Linked DNA regions of Homo sapiens. The protein of the gene in region 2 interacts with the protein of the main gene of each other region in a biochemical or structural test. Each region holds a gene or a part of one and is shown on either strand. Other genes may lie near its edges.

The links. The genes of interacting proteins can lie anywhere in the genome.
Region 1: the proteins of DAP3 (region 2) and PPARA form a complex in vitro, tested with the Homo sapiens proteins (one study listed by BioGRID).

Annotation. Positions count from the first base shown.
Region 1 is NC_000022.11:46,219,918-46,224,576, reverse strand, and holds part of PPARA (peroxisome proliferator-activated receptor alpha), read right to left. Parts: coding exon 4,563-4,659; intron 1-4,562. UniProt on the Homo sapiens protein: Ligand-activated transcription factor. Key regulator of lipid metabolism. Activated by the endogenous ligand 1-palmitoyl-2-oleoyl-sn-glycerol-3-phosphocholine (16:0/18:1-GPC). Activated by oleylethanolamide, a naturally occurring lipid that regulates satiety.
Region 2 is NC_000001.11:155,723,551-155,727,090, reverse strand, and holds part of DAP3 (small ribosomal subunit protein mS29), read right to left. Parts: intron 1,710-3,540; coding exon 1,601-1,709; intron 1,165-1,600; coding exon 1,072-1,164; intron 1-1,071. UniProt on the Homo sapiens protein: As a component of the mitochondrial small ribosomal subunit, it plays a role in the translation of mitochondrial mRNAs. Involved in mediating interferon-gamma-induced cell death. Displays GTPase activity in vitro.

The DNA of each region.
Region 1 (4,659 bases), on a different chromosome or scaffold from region 2:
GGGGCGTGGCTGGGGCTGTGAGGTCACCCAGGCTGGAAACTGATGAAACGGCGACCGCATGTGGGCCACTGGGCAGAGATCAAGGTGTTTCCAGGCCGCTGCTTGGTCTCCCTAACAGATTTCTTGCCCACAGATGGGGTTGCTTTCTGAGATGTGTAAGGGACACAGGCTATGGTCTTCCACTACCCACCTTGGCCACAAAACCAGAGCTCTGCCAATAGATTCAGGCAGTGTGGCCTGGTGGTGGGCATCCTGCCAACGGGGCCTTTTCCCAGACTAAGCAGAGAGGGTATCCTGCACCTGAAGGAGCCAGCTCTGGAAAGCCCGTCAGCAGGCTAGGCAGGGAGGAGGGGGCCGTGCCTCCAGCGTCCCGTGCGCAGACAAGGACATGGGGTGGGACGCAACCCTGGCTTGGAGCAAACAGTGTGATCAAACACAAAGAGTCACATGATGGTTGGAGGTTGCCTTGAAAACTGGTACCTGCGGTGCTCTGGCTTTGTGGGTGTGGGTGGAAGAGGGCATCTGACTCTCGGAAGAGTGCCCGGTTCTCTTTTTCTACAGAAAACCAAATTGTGAACCCCAATCCTAAACTATTCATCTATCATTTCTTTCTTTTTTTTTTTTTTTGAGATGGAGTCTCACTCTGTCACCCAGGCTGGAGTGCACCGGTGTGATCTCGGCTCCCTGCAACCTCCACCTCCCAGGTTCACGCCATTCTCCTGCCTCAGCCTCCCGAATAGATGGGACTACAGGCGCACACTGCCATGCCCGGCTAATTTTTTGTATTTTAGTAGAGATGGGGTTTTACCATGTTGCCCAGGCTGGTCTCGAACTCCTGAGCTCAGGTAATCCGCCCTCCTCTGCCTCCCACAGTGCTGGGATTACAGGCATAAGCATGAGCAACCACGCCTGGCCCTCTTTTTTTTTTTTTTTTGAGATGGAGTCTCGCTCTGTCACCCAGGCTGGAGTGCAGTGGTGTGATCTCGGCTCACTGCAACCTCTGCCTTCCAGGTTCAAGCAATTCTCCTGCCTCAGCCTCCTGGGTAGTTGGGATTACAGGTGCCCACGACCATGCCTAGCTAATTTTTGTATTTTTAGTAGAGACGGGGTTTCACCATATTGGTCAGGCTGGTCTCCAACTCCTGACCTCAGGTGATCCACCTGCCTCAGCCTCCCAAAGTGCTGGGATTACAGGCATGAGCCACCGCGCCTGGCCTATTATTTATTTCTTTAAGGCCAAAATGCAAACAGATTCCCGCCTGCTAGTTGCTGCATGTGACCCTCAGCTGAGGGTGATGGGGTTCCTAGAGCTTGGTGGTCTCCAAGGGGAGGTGCAGGAGGACTCCAGGAGTCCCATTCGCACCCCATGGTGGGGGCAGGTTGTTAGGAAGAAAGACAACTTAACTCTGCTTCGAATTTTTTTTAGAGAGTCTCGCTTTGTCGCCTAGGCTGGAGTGCAGTGGCGCGATCGTGGCTCGCTGCAGCCTTGAACTCCTGGCCTCAAGGCATCCTCCTCAACCTCCCAAGTCGCGGGGACTATAGGCATGTGCCACCATGCCTGGATAATGTTTTTATTTTTTGTAGAGATGTGGTCTTGCCATGTTGCCCAGGTTGGTTTTGAACTCCTGGGCTCAAGCCATCCTCCCATCTCAGCTTCCCAAGTACCTGGGACCACAGGCACATGCCACCATGCCCAGCTAGTTTTTTAAAAAATCATTTTTTGTAGAGACGAGGTCTCCTTGTGTTGCCTGGTCTCAAACTCTTGGATTGCCTCAAGTGATCCTCCCGCCTCAGCCTCCCAAAGTGCTGGGATTACAGTGTGAGCCACTGTGCCCAGCCTGCTTTCAATTCTGAAATCCAAGGGAGAAATATAAGCTGGCAAACAAAAGTTTTAGCCATCCCAATTTTGGGCTGTACTAATCATATCCAGGATAGAGACTCGAAGCTAAAAGTTACCTTTTCTTTCACTCTCGTAATCCAGGAAAGTTCTAATTGGGACAAGCCTCTGGAGCTGCCTAGTGTGGGTGTCTGCTGGAAACTTCTAAAATGTCTCGGCCTATTTAATTGGAGAATTCACTGAAGAATTAAAGGACTCAGTAAAGAAGAGGTTTGGTTTGTTCATGAAAGTAAGTAGCTTGTGAAATGCTTTATTTTCCTGTGACTAAAATTCCACCTTGTAATTCCCAATAAGGATTGCTTCAAGCTATTTAATACAAATTAAACCTGTTTCACCATGCTCATAGGAAAATGTCAAAGTATCTTCATTCACCAACTGAGGGCTGGCTCTTCTTTGAAGGTAGCTCTGAGATTTGTTTTGTAATGGAGACAAAGACTTATTTAACTGTTGGGGAGGGGGAAGGAGGACTTAGGCCAGGCAGGCGGGGATGTGGGGGACGAACCATGAGGGGCAATTTGGCTGCCTCTGAAAAGGTCCAGAGCTACCTTAAAAGACAGGCTTTCTATAACAAGTGGTCCTTTCTTTTCCTTTCTTTTTTTTTTTGAGACAGAGTCTCACTCTGTTGCCCAAGCTGGAGTGCAGTGGTGCGATCTCAGCTCACTGCAACCTCCAGCTCCCAGGTTCAAGCAATTCTCCTGCCTCAGCCTCCCAAGTAGCTGGGATTACAGGCAACCGCTACCATGCCCAGCTAATTTTTTGTATTTTTAATAGAGATGGGGTTTCACCATGTTGGCCAGGGTGGTCTCAAACTCCTGACCTCAAGTGATCCACCCACCTCAGCCTCCCAAAGTGCTGGGATTACAGACATGAGCCACCGCGCCCAGACACAGCTGGCTTTGTCGCCCAGGCTGGAAGTGCAGTGGCACGATCTCGGCTCACTGCAAGCTCTGCCTCCTGGGTTCACGCCATTCTCCTGCCTCAGCTTCCCAAGTAGCTGAGACTACAGGCGCCCGCCACCACGCCCGGCTAATTTTTTGTATTTTTAGTGGAGATGGTGTTTCACCATGTTAGCCAGGATGGTCTTGATCTCCTGACCTCGTGATCCGCCTGTCTTGGCCTCCCAAAGTGCTGGGATGACAGGCGTGAGCCACCACGCCTGGCTTACAAGTGGCCCTTTCTAAGCCCCAAGATGTCACTGTCTTTTCACTGAAGGCGGAAAAAGAATGTAGGCATGTTTGTCTGAGAGGGAGGGAGTAGTTTTAGGAGAAAGGACCAAGAGCACATTTTGAGTGGGAAGTAAGTGGTTTCCTTTTCTAGCCTTATGATATGGTTTGGCTCTGTGTCCCCACCCAAATCTCATGGTGAACTGTAATCCCCAGTGGTGGAGGTGAGGCCTGGCGGGAGGGACTGGATCATGGGGGTGATCCTTCATGAATGGTTTAGCACCATCCTCTTGGTGCTACTCTAGTGATAGCGTTCTCACAAGATCTGATGGGTGAAAAGTGTGTGTCTCTTGTTTTTGCTCCTGCCATGCAAGACGCCTACTCCCACTTCACCTTCTGCTATGAGTCAAATTCCCTGAGGCCTCCCCAGAAGCAGAAGCTTCCTGTACAGCCTTGTGGGCCACGAGCCAATTAAACCTCTTTTCTTTATAAATTACCAGGTCTCAGGGATTTCTTTATAGCAGACTAATACACCTCAAAGTAGGGATTTATTTTATTATTCTATTTTTTTTTTGAGATAGGGTCTCGATCTGTCACCCAGGCTGGAGTGCAGTGGCATGATCTCAGCTTGCTGTAACCTCTGCCTCCCGGGTTGAAGCAATTCTCATGCCTAAGCCACCCAAGTAGCTGGAATTACAGGTGTGTGCCACCCTGCTCAGCTAATTTTTGTATCTTTAGTAGAGTTGGGGTTTCTCCATGTTGGCCAGGCTGGTATCAAACTCCTGGACTCAAGCAATCTGCCCACCTTGGCCTCCCCAGAGTGCCAGGATTACAGGCATGACCCATCTTGCCTGGTCAGTTTTTTTTTTTTTAAATCCAGTTAATGCTGGGTGCCATGACTCACACCTGTAATGCCAGTGCTTTGGGAGGCCGAGGTGGGAAGATCACTTGAGGCCAGGAGTTTGAGACCAGCCTGGGAAACATCTCATCTCTACCAAAAAACAAAAACAAAACAAAACAACAACAACATCAAACATAGCCAGGTGTGGTGGTGCACACCTGTAGTCCCAGCTCCTTGGGAGGCTGAGGCAGGAGGATTGCTTGAGCCCAGGAGTTCAAGGCTGCAGTGAACTATGATTGCACCACTGCATTCCAGCCTGGGCAACAGAGCAAGAACCTATCTCTATTTAAGAAAAAATGCTCCTAAGAAATCATCTTAGTACTTGGTAAGCTATTAAGGTTTTTTTTAAGTGTATTAATTACATAGCCAGTATAATAACTTAGTTGCTAAGAGCTTTGAGGTGGCTCCAAGCAAGAAGAAAGGAGTTGTTGTTAAGCTACAGCTCAGAGTCTCAGAATGAACTGTTTCCATCTTCGCTGTCCTTTGCTTAACTGTGGGATAAATATAATTTTCTCAACATTCAACACATGTGTCCTTAATCGTCCTCTACGACACTGGTTCCATGTTGCCAAGAGAACCCAGAACAGCCGCAAACACCTACTGGATTGTTACTGGCCTTTCCTGAGAGGATGACCCGGGCTTTGACCTTGTTCATGTTGAAGTTCTTCAAGTAGGCCTCGTAGATTCTCTTGGCCAGA
Region 2 (3,540 bases):
AAAAGGCTCTATGGGTACTCAGGACTGTTAACAGATGGCAAAAACAAAACAAAACAAAACAAAACAAAACTCCATGGCGACCTCTAAGGCAGAAGTTTATGTCCATGGGTATTAAATATCAAAAGAAGGACTGCTTAGCATCAAAAGGCTTCAGGAAGCTTTTAGCCGAATTTCCTTTTGTCACATTGACTTCACCTTATAATCTGCTTGGCAGTAATATCACGAAGAAATCATGATGGATGAGCTCAGTCTGCTCTACATCTGGAGTAAAGGCTTTTCTTCTTCTTCTTTTTTTTTTTTTTTTTTGAGACAGGGTCTTGCTTTGTTGCCCACGCTAGAGTGTAGTGGTGCGATCACAGCTCACTGCAGCCTCCTCCTGGGCTCTAAGCAATATTCCAGCCTCAGCCTCCCAAAGTGCTGGGATTATAGGTTTGAGCCATCGTGACTGGCAAAGGCTTTTCCTTTAGCTATCAGATCCCTGTTAGGAAAGTAAAGCTGAGGCCGGGTGCAATGGCTCATGCCTGTAATCCCAGCACTTTGGGAGGCCAAGGCAGGTGGATCACCTGAAGTCAGGAGTTCGAGACCAGCCTGGCCAACATGGTGAAACCCTGTCTCTACTAAAAATACAAAAAAAATTAGCCGGGCATGGTGGCGGGCGCCTGTAGTCCCAGCTACTCAGGAGGCTGAGGCAGAAGAATGGTGTGAACCCGGGAGGCGGAGCTTGCAGTGAGCTGAGATCGTGCCACTGCACTCCAGCCTGGGCGACAGAGCAAGACTCCGTCTCAAAAAAAAAAAAAAAAAAAAATTAGCTGGGCGTGGTGGTGTGGTGGGCGCCTGTAATCCCAGCTACTTGGGAGGCTGAGGCAGGAGAATCTCTTGAGCCTGGGAGGCGGAGGTTGCGGTGACCTGAGATTGCGCCTCTGCACTCCAGACTGGCCGACAAGAGCGAAACTCCATCTCAAAAAAAAAAAAAAAAAGAAAAGAAAAGAAAAGAAAATTAAAGCTGCAAGGCTACCACAGTAACAGGATAACTAAACCTAACAGACAGAAGAAACAACAGGAAGTTCTTACCATCTGGAATATGTAGTATCAGCCAGTCCTGTTTTGCACAGAAATGAATAACATGGCAAAGACTTAGGGTTTTTCCTGTTCCCTTCTCTCCATCTAAAGTATATGTTGTTAAAGAAAACATGACTGGAAGGATCACTTGTATGTGAACAGTAGTTATGCTTTGTTTTGTTTTTTTGAGATGGGGTTGGAGTGCAGTGGCTTGATATCAGCTCACAGCAACCTCCGCTTCCCGGGTTCAAGCGATTCTCCTGCCTCAGCTTCCCAAGTAGCTGGGATTACAGGTGCACGCTACCACACCCGGCTAATATATTGCATTTTTAGTAAATGCGGGGTTTCGCCATGTTGGCCAGGCAGGTCTTGAACTCCTGACTTCAGGCGATACGCCTGCCTCGGCTTCCCAAACTCCTGGGATTATAGGTGTGAGCTACCATGCCCGGCCTCAACAGTACTTTTTTTCATTTCTTCTGTTGCCTTATTTGAGGGGAGAAAGCATTGGTTCATGAGGGTCCACGCAGGCAGGAAAGGATACACAGAAGATATCGTATAGCTGGATAAGCAAAACTGGTGTTTTTCAGGTAATGCAGAAGTTCTAGGGCTGGTTTCCTTACCATCAGGCAAGCTTCACTGAATGTCTTCACCTGATAAAGTAGGAAAGAAGGAAAGAGTGGGTGGGTGTGGAAGGAGTGGGTGGGGGGTGGTATATATACTCTGCCTAAAGTGGCAACCAAGACCATCAGATTGCATGCCTCTAATTTACTCAGTTAGGAGAAGCTGGGTTGGTACTGAGTTTGAAAATCTATCCATATAACTTAGCTAAAAACTGAAATACATTATTCCGCACTAAGTAACATGATAGTCAGCTTTTGATTATTCCTATTACTGAAGCATATATTCTATCTCAGCTGAAATCTATAAATAATTGATATATCTCATAACAAAATTATGTATACCACTTAGGGCCACTGTAAATATGGAAAGCATATAGAAAAATGCTTAAAATTTCTGACACAAGTTAATAATTCAATAAACATTAACTCTTTAAATTTTTTTTCTTTTTTTTTTTTTGAGACGGAGTTTCACTCTTGTTGCCCAGGCTGGAGTGCAATGGCACGATCTCGGCTCACCACAACCTCTGCCTCCCAGTTCAAGTGATTCTCCTGCCTCAGCCTCCCGAGTAGCTGGGATTACAGGCACCCACCACCATGCCCGGCTATTTTGTATTTTTAGTACAGAAGGAGTTTCTCCATGTTGGTCAGGCTGGTCTCAAACTCCCGACCTCAGGTGACACCCCCGTCTTGGCCTCCCAAAGTGCAGGGATTACAGGCGTGAGCCACTGCACCTGGCCTAAAATTTATTTTTAGTTGATTTTTTTTTTTTTTCTTTTTTTGAGACAGAGTCTCACTCTGTCACCCAGGCTAGAGTGCAGTGGTGTGATCTCGGCTCACTGCAACCTCCGCCTCCGGGGTTCAAGCAATTCTTCTGCCTCAGTCTCCTCAGTAGCTGGGATTACAGGTGCCACCACCATGCCAGGCTGATTTTTGTAATTTTAGTAGAGACAGGCTTTCACCATGTTGGTCAGGCTGGTCTCGAACTCCTGACCTCATGATCCACCCGTCTCAGCCTCCCAAGGTGCTGGGATTATAGGCGTGAGCCACCGCACCTGGCCTAAAATTTATTTTTATTACTTTAACCATTTAGACTTTTTTCTCTAGAACTAAATACATGGCGGCTCAGGAGCAGGTGTGACCAGCTGCCTCACAACTCTAAGGCCATCCATACCTCATACCTCCAGCATACTAACCTTTCAGAGTTTAATTCCCCTTTTGCTACCAGAATACTTTGGTGGGAAATTTGGGAAGTACTAATGTGTGTGAAACTGATTTGCAAAGAAAATATTAAAATATGTCTACTAATAAGAATATCTAACAAATACTGTTTGTAAGTATAACTAAAATAGTGTTAATTTTTTTTTTTTTTTTTTGAGACAGAGTCTCGCTCTGTCGCACAGGCTGGAGTGCAGTGACACGATCTCAGCTCACTGCAACCTCCGCCTCCCGGGTTCAAGCGATTCTCCTGCTTCAGCCTCACAAGTAGCTGTGACTACAGGCGTGTGCCACCACGCCCAGCTAATTTTTGTATTTTTAGTAGAGATGGAGTTTCACCATGTTGGCCAGGCTCATCTTGAACTCCTGGCCTTAAGTAATCTGCCCACCTCAGCTTCCCAAAGTGCTGGAATTACAGGCGTGAGCCATTGTACCCAGCCAGTGTTGATATTTTTAAAAGAAATCCTAACAAAACAATTGAATTGGTGTAGGATTTGACAGGCAATTCCAAACTTAATGGAAGGCTCAATGTTCAAAAAAACATGATAAAGGTATTAAAACAAATGTTGGCTGGGCGTGGTGGCTCATCCCTGTAATCCCAGCACTTTGGGAGGCCAAGACAGGTGGATCACCTGAGGTTAGGAGT